2 linked regions of the Homo sapiens genome follow. The protein of the gene in region 2 purifies or fractionates together with the protein of the main gene of each other region. This does not show direct contact. Each region holds a gene or a part of one and is shown on either strand. Other genes may lie near its edges. The genes, in order: NISCH and POM121C.

Evidence for each region.
Region 1: the proteins of POM121C (region 2) and NISCH purify together in Homo sapiens (affinity purification with mass spectrometry, with the first as the bait; one large-scale study listed by BioGRID). This does not show direct contact.

The regions. Positions count from the first base shown.
Region 1 is NC_000003.12:52,458,565-52,462,383, reverse strand, and holds part of NISCH (nischarin), read right to left. Parts: intron 3,723-3,819; coding exon 3,540-3,722; intron 1-3,539. UniProt on the Homo sapiens protein: Acts either as the functional imidazoline-1 receptor (I1R) candidate or as a membrane-associated mediator of the I1R signaling.
Region 2 is NC_000007.14:75,476,286-75,480,104, reverse strand, and holds part of POM121C (nuclear envelope pore membrane protein POM 121C), read left to right. Parts: intron 1-3,819. UniProt on the Homo sapiens protein: Essential component of the nuclear pore complex (NPC). The repeat-containing domain may be involved in anchoring components of the pore complex to the pore membrane. When overexpressed in cells induces the formation of cytoplasmic annulate lamellae (AL).

The sequences.
Region 1 (3,819 bases), on a different chromosome or scaffold from region 2:
GAGACATCTTTAGTTGCCATAGCTGGGTGGGGAAGTGCTACTGGCATCCAGTGGGTAGAAGCCAGGGTGCTGCTAAACAATGCATGGGACAGCTCCTTACAGAAACAAATTATCCAGTCCAAAATGTCAACAGTGCTATGGCTGATCAACTGTGGGTTTAATCCAACGATGGGTTCAATTGCTTTTTTAAATCCTAGGATTTATATAACCTAGGGACCTGTTTGATAATACTAATTCCAAATATGTCAAAACTTCTACAAGTAGCGGAGCCTGCCTCAAACCAGAACCAGATGTAGCCGGCCCCAGGCACATCTCAGGCAAACCAGTTTCAAAAGAGCAGTCCAGGCCTTTCCACCCTCAGAGCCAGGCACACGTGAGGCAGCCAGCGAGACCTCCTCTCCTCAAAGGCATAGGTCTCAAGCAAGGAATTAATACCGTCAAAGGACTGCATGTCAGGTTTCATCCCTAAATGGCTAACCAAAGCTTTCTTAAAATACAATATTTCTTTTTTTTTTTTTTTTGTGACGGAGTCTTGCTCTGTCGCCCAGGCTAGAGTGCAGTGACACGATCTTGGCTCACTGCAAGCTCTGCCTCCCGGGTTCACGCCATTCTCCTGCCTCAGCCTCCCGAGTAGCTAGGACTACAGGAGCCCACCACCATGCCTGGCTAATTTTTTGTATTTTTAGTAGAGACGGGGTTTCACCGTGTTAGCCAGGATGGTCTCGATCTCCTGACCTCGTGATCCACCCGCCTCGGCCTCCCAAAGTGCTGGGATTACAGGCGTGAGCCACTGCGCCCGGCCTTTAAAGTACATTATTTCTTAAAATACTAACCAGTAAAGTTTATCTGAAAGACTTGCATAAGGAATGCAAATTTTTTCTCACATAAGAAAGTATAAAAATATGTTTACGAAAGGGTATGTTGCTAACCCTATACTTGCTGGTATATGCTAAATAAAATCCAAAGCATATACACAGGTCCCATCTGTGAATGCTATCTACTTTTCCACCTGTCCCTGCCAAGCTCAGTGGCCCCAGGTTAGCACTCGCCACCAAATTTCTAGGCTCTTTAGTGATCCAAGAAAGGTTCAACTGTCTTACTCTGAAAAGAGTTTAAGGAAGTTGTTTCTTCTGTTTTTGTTTTTTTCTTTGAGACAGAGTCTCTGTGGCCCATGCTGAAGTGCAGTGGCATAACCTCGGCTCACTGCAACCTCCCCTTCCCAGGTTCAAGCGACTCTCATGCCTCTCTCCTGAGTAGCTGGGACTACAGGCATGAGTCACCACGCGCAGCTAATTTTTGTATTTTTAGTAGCGACAGGGTTTCGCTATGTTGGCCAGGCTGGTCTCGAACTCCTGGCCTCAAGTGATCTGCCTGTCTGGGCCTTCCCAAAGTGCTGGGATTACAGGCGTGAGCCACTGCACCTGGCCAAGAAAGTTGTATTTTAAATACAGCTGGGCTTTTAGGACCATAATCCACAGGTTACTTCAAGGTGAGCCTGAAAAGGGAGTGGATTCTTCCCTGTCTTCATCATATAAAAGGAAAACAAGTAAATATAAATTATCTGAAAATCTATCACTCAGAGAAAACTACTCTTAGCATTTTGGTATACGTAAACCTTCTAGAATTTTCCTAGACAAATATGTCCATATCAACTTGTTTTTTGTAAAAATGAGACCATAGTCAGCCAGGTGCAGTGGCTCACACCTACAGTCTAAGCACTTTGAGAGGCAGAGGTGGGAGGATGGCTTGAGTTCGAGTTTGAGGCCAACCTGAGCAATACTGCAAGACCCCATCTCTACAAAAAAATTTTTAAAATTAGCTGGGTGTGGTGGCATGCACCTGTAGTTCCAGCTACTTGGGAAGTTGAGGCAGGAAGATCCCTTGAGCCCAGGAGTTTGAGGTTGCAGTGACCCATGATCAGGCCACTGTCCTCCAGCCTGAGCAATGGAGTGAGACCCTGTCTCAAAAAAAAAAAAAAAAAAATAGTACAGCCATACAGTTGGATACTGCTTAAGAAAGTTGCATTTTTTTTGAGACAGTGTCTGCTGGGAAGACTGGTGTGCTGCTGGGATAATGATGGTGGAGCTGCAGATTTCTTTTTTGTTTTATTTTCCCAAAGAGCTGGGATCACAGGCATGAGCCACTGTGCTCAGCCTGGCTGTACCCTTTGATTTTTTTTTTTTTTTTTTTTTTTTTTGAGATGAAGTCTTACTCTCACTCTGTTGCCCAGGCTGGAGTGCAGTGACATGATCTCGACTTACTGCAACCTCTGCTTCTTGGGTTCAAGCGATTCTCCTGCCTCAGCCTCCCAAATAGCTGGGATTACAGGCATCTGCCACCATACCCAGCTAATTTTTGTATTCTTAGTAGAGACAGGGTTTCACCATGTTAGCCAGGATGGTCTTGAACTCCTGACCTCAAGTGATCTGCCCACCTCAGCCTCTCAAAGTGCTGGGATTACAGGCATGAGCCACTGCACCTGGCCTGATTTTTTTTTTTTAACCTCTTCTACTAGACTTTAGGGTTGTCCTTACTATTTTGTTACAATCCTGGAATGACTACCTTTGTTCATATATCCTTTTTGCGGCTGCCTGATTTTTCCTTAGAAGAAATTCTCATAAATAGAACTGCTATTTAATATTGTGGTTTTGGCCAGGTGCGGTGGCACACGCCTGTAATCCCAGCACTTTGGGAGGCTGAGGCAGGCAGATCACTTGAGGTCAGGAGTTCCAGACCAGTCTGGCCAACATGGTGAAACCCCATCTCTACTAAAAATACAAAAATTAGCTGGGTGTGGTGGTGCAAGTCTGTAGTCCCAGCTACTCGGGAGGCTGAGGCAGGAGAATTGCTTGAACCCAAGAGGCGGAGGTTGTAGTGAGCCGAGATCGCACCACTGCACTCCAGCCTAGGTGACAGAGCAAGACTCCGTCTCAAAAGCACAAATATTGTGGTTTCACACTGCCTAAGTGCCCTTCTTAAAGTCTGACAACGCATTCTGTCACCGGCAACCTATGAAAGTTGTTCCTCTTTCAAGGACGGAGTACAGAGCTGTTCTATGACACACTCTCCCATCACAGGAAGGTGTCCACCCTCAACCTTAGCACCCTGGCAGCGCGGACCCTGATGACACGCCCCAAGATGGTGATATTCCACCATCACAGACTAATCCCTTAATTAGTTTTGGGCTATGCACCAACAACTCAACAATAGTCTATCCCAGGTGTCAGCTATTTCTAATCCAGCCTCATCCATCTGGATGGAAACCTAGCTTAAACACCCACAGGCCATTTTTGCTAAACAAAATGCCTTGTGGTGGAGGAAAGCATCTCTGTGGCCACATTTAGTCTAATTTACGGCAAATCTGTCAACTAACATGCTTCTGGCCACAATGCATTCCTAACCAGGGTGACGTTCCTCCATCTTCTAACCTAGGGTCAAACCCCAGCCCACCTCAAAGCTGAGGTCTCCCCTGGTTTGCTGCCTCAAGTTTGGCAGTTGTGGGTTTGCAGGCACAGGTGAAAACCCGATGAGGAACTTACATAGAAGTGAAAATGCAAGAAGTGGGCCAGTACTCTGGGGGTCACGCCAGGGAAGGCAGCCAGGAGCTTCTGGAGGTAGACCTCCAGATCCTTCTCCCTCTTCTCCACCAAGCTTCTTGAGTTTTTCCCAATTATCTTTTTGGGCGGAAGCAGATTTTTATCAATCTTTCTCTCTGCAACGAGCTGTAAAAAAACATAAGCACATCAACCACAGACTAAGAGGCTCTGTGCCTATGTAAGACCAAGGCAAGAAGCTTGAGGGCAGGCGCTTGTCAGCACT
Region 2 (3,819 bases):
TCTTGCTTGTTTTCATCAGTCTATTTCTGTCTCATAATTGGGGATGTATAAACCGTTTACATGTAATGTGATTATTGATAAAACGAGTTAGGTTATAGTCCGTTGTCTTTGCTTTCTTTTAGTCTCATCTTCTTTGTTTCTTTTTAAAATGTCTCTGTTTGTCTTCCTTCCTTTTGATTAGTTGAGAATTTTTTATGATTCTACTTTATGTCTTTTGTTGGGTTTTTAGCTATCACACTGTTTTGTTATTTTAGTGAGTTAGAATTTATAGTATGCAACTTTAATTGTCATAGTTTATTCTTAAGTAATATCCATTTTTCCTAGAATAAGAGAAGCTTACAATAGGACACTTCCATTTCTCTCCTCTTGGTCTTTACACCGTTGTTCATTTTATTTTTACAGGTGGTATCAGTGCCACACACTATCTATTACGTTGTTGTTAATTAAACTGTATTTATTTATTTATTTATTTATTTATTTATTTATTTAGAGACAGAGTCTCACTCTGTCCCCCAGGCTGGAGTGCAGGGGTGCTATCTTGGCCCACTGCAACCTCTGCCTCCTGGGTTCAAGTGATTCTCCTGCCTCAGCCTCCTGGGTAGCTGGGATTACAGACACCCACCATCACGCCCGGCTAATTTTTGTATTTTTAGTAGAGACGAGGTTTCGCCATGTTGGCCAGGCTGGTCTCGAACTCCTGACCTCAGGTCACCCATCTGCCTCAGCCGCCCAAAGTGCTGGGATTACAGGTGTGAGCCACCACACTTGGCCCAGGTATCTTTTAAAGAGATTTAAGTAATGAGAGAAAATACACAGTTACCATTTCTGGTACTCTTCATTCCTTTGTGTAAATCTAAATTTTTATTTGCTGTCATTTTACTTCTGCCTGAAGGACTTTCTGTAACATTTCTTCTAGTTGATGATGAATTATTATATGTCTGCAAATGTCTTCATTGTGTCTTTGCTTTTAAAGGTGTTTTTGCTGGATTTTTCTCCACAGTGCTTTAAATATGTTTCTCTGTTGTCTTCCTGCTTACATTTTTTTCTAAGAGAAATCTGATCTCATACTCATGTTTGTTCCCCTATATATAACATGTCTTTTTTTCTTCCCCCCTTATTGTTTTAAACTTTTTATCACTAGTTTTGGACAATTTGATTGCAATATGTCATGGTATCATTTTTTTCATGTTTCTGTTTTGGGGATCATTGAACTTCTTGGATCTTGGGTTTATGGTGTCATCACTTGGGGAACATTTTTATCATTATCTCTTCAAGTACCCGCCACCTCCCCTCCATTGATTCTTGTTGCCTGTATATTAGGCCACTTGAAATTTTCCCACAACACACTGTTGCTCTTTATTTGCTTTTAATTCTTCTTTCTCTGTTTCATTTTATGTAACTTCTGTTGCTGTCTTTATATTCACTAATCTCTTTTTTCCATGATGCTGTTCATCTTTTCCAGTATAATTTTCATCTCAGATATTGTACTATCTGTAGAAGGTTAGCGTGGGTCTTTTTTACATCTTGCCTGTCTTGATTTTTTTGAACATTTGGAATAGAACGATGAACTCTCTCAGTGCTCTGTGCCGGTTGTGAACTCTGTGTCAATTCTGGGCCAGTTTTGATGGACTGATTCTTTTCTTCCTTATGGGTTGTAATTTCCTGCCCATTTTCCCATCCCACAACTCTTTCTCCTCACATCTGCCTCGGTTCTTCTTCCCTGCTCCATGGCCTGGAAACGCTCAAGGCAGAAGTTGATTGGTTCACCTTGTTTATTTCCCATCACTCATAGATAACTCTACTGCCTGATAATCAGTGCCTTGAAAACCACTGCTTCAGCCCAGGCGTGGTGGCTCATACCTGTAATCACAGCAACAACAACAAGGCTAAGGTGGGCGGATCACGAGGTCAGGAGTTCAAGACCAGCCTGGCCAACATGGTGAAACCCCATCTCTACTAAAAATATAAAAATTAGCCGGGCATGCTGGTGCACGCCTGTAATCCCAGCTACTCGGGAGGCTGAGGCAGAAGAATTGCTGGAACCCGGGAGACAGAGGTTGCAGTGAGCCAAGATTGTGCCATTGCACCCCAGCCTGGAAGACAAGAGCGAGACTTCATCTCAAAAAACAAAAAACAAAAACAAAAACAAAAAAACAAATCATTGCTTTCGTATATGTTCTTGTTTTATTTTTCTTTCTGTTTTTGATTTTGTTGTTCTTTGGTGTGTGCTGTTTCAGGTTGGAGGGTATATCCAGTACTTGTTAATTTATCACACCTGAGGGCAGAAGTCCTCATGTCTCTGTCTATATGTTTTTTCTAATATATATATTATTTTCTTTGTAGAGACAGGGTCTTGCTATGTTGCCAAGGCTGGTCTCAAGCTCCTGGCCTCAAGCAATCCTTCTGCCTCAGCTTTCCAGAGTGCTGGGATTACAGGCATGAGCCACCACACCTGGCCTGGGTCCAGTTTTATCCATGTCCAAATTTTTTTTTCCCTGAGCTATTTTTGATTTTCTTCCACCTCATATGAACTGTAGTGTCAGCTTATCTAGTTCCAGGAAAAAGCTTTTTGGTATTTTTATTGGGATTGCATATTTATAAAGTAATTTAGGGAAACTGGTATCTCTGTATTATTAAGTTGACCTTAATACTACAACTAATTTTGTTGTTGTTTTTGGATTTTTAGTAGAGATAGGGTTTCACCATGTTGACCAGGCTGGTCTTGAACTCCTGACCTCAGGTGATCTGCCCGCCTCGGCCTTCTAAAGTGTTGGGATTACAGGCGTGAGCCACCGTGCCCAAGCACTTTTACTTTTTCTTAGTTATATTCCTCTAATTGTTTTCTCTTCTCTAATTGTAGATAATGAGCATTTTATTAATACCTTGTTCTTGATCTTAGTGGGAAGATATGTAGTTTTTCCCTGTTAAGTAAAATCCTGACTTTCGGACCGAGAAGACTGAGGCATAAGAGTGTGTGTGTGTGTGTGTGTGTGTATACACGCAAACTGTATATATGTGCTTGTGTGTAATTGAAATACATATGTCACATATCATACGTACTATGGCATATTAGGGTGTAATATTTATATTTGTGTATATAATATTGATGTTAATGAAGTATCCATCAGTTTCTATTTTCTTTAGTTTGTTTTTTTAAATCAGCTTTTTCTGTCAAGCTTTTTCAAGTATCTTCATGGATACAAGATTTTTCTTCTTTGCTGTGTTATAGTGGCTTATCATATTAATAGATTTCCAAATATTAAACTAGTCTATATTGTTGGAATAAGTCCTATTTGTCTGTTGTATATTATGTTTTTAATCTGGTACTGGATTTTGTTTGGTTATGTTTCATTTTGGGTATTTGTATTGATGTAAGTGGTATTGACATGTAATTTTATGTTATTTATTGGTCGATCAGTCTTCTAACCCCCACCACCTCCTTGCCTTCTGGACTAAGTTAACCCAGAAAGTTATTACTCTCTCTCGGTGATTTTATCAGCTCCTTTGGCCTGCCTGTGGATAAGCTTGGATGTTCTGCTTTAGTTTCTCAGCCCACCAGCCTAGCAGCTCTGCCTCTGCTATCTCTTGGGATCTACATGGTCCTAGCTGTATCACTGGGTTTGAACCCCTTGTTGATATGTTCTTTATAAATAACAGGATAATGCAACATGCTTACTGGGCACTTCCTTTTTCTAAACTGCAAGTTTGGGCAGGGCATGCTGGCTCAAGCCTGTAATCCCAATACTTTGGGAGGCCAAGGCAGGTGGATTGCTGGAGCCCAGGAGCTTTGCATTTTTCTTTTTTTTTTTTTTTTGAGAC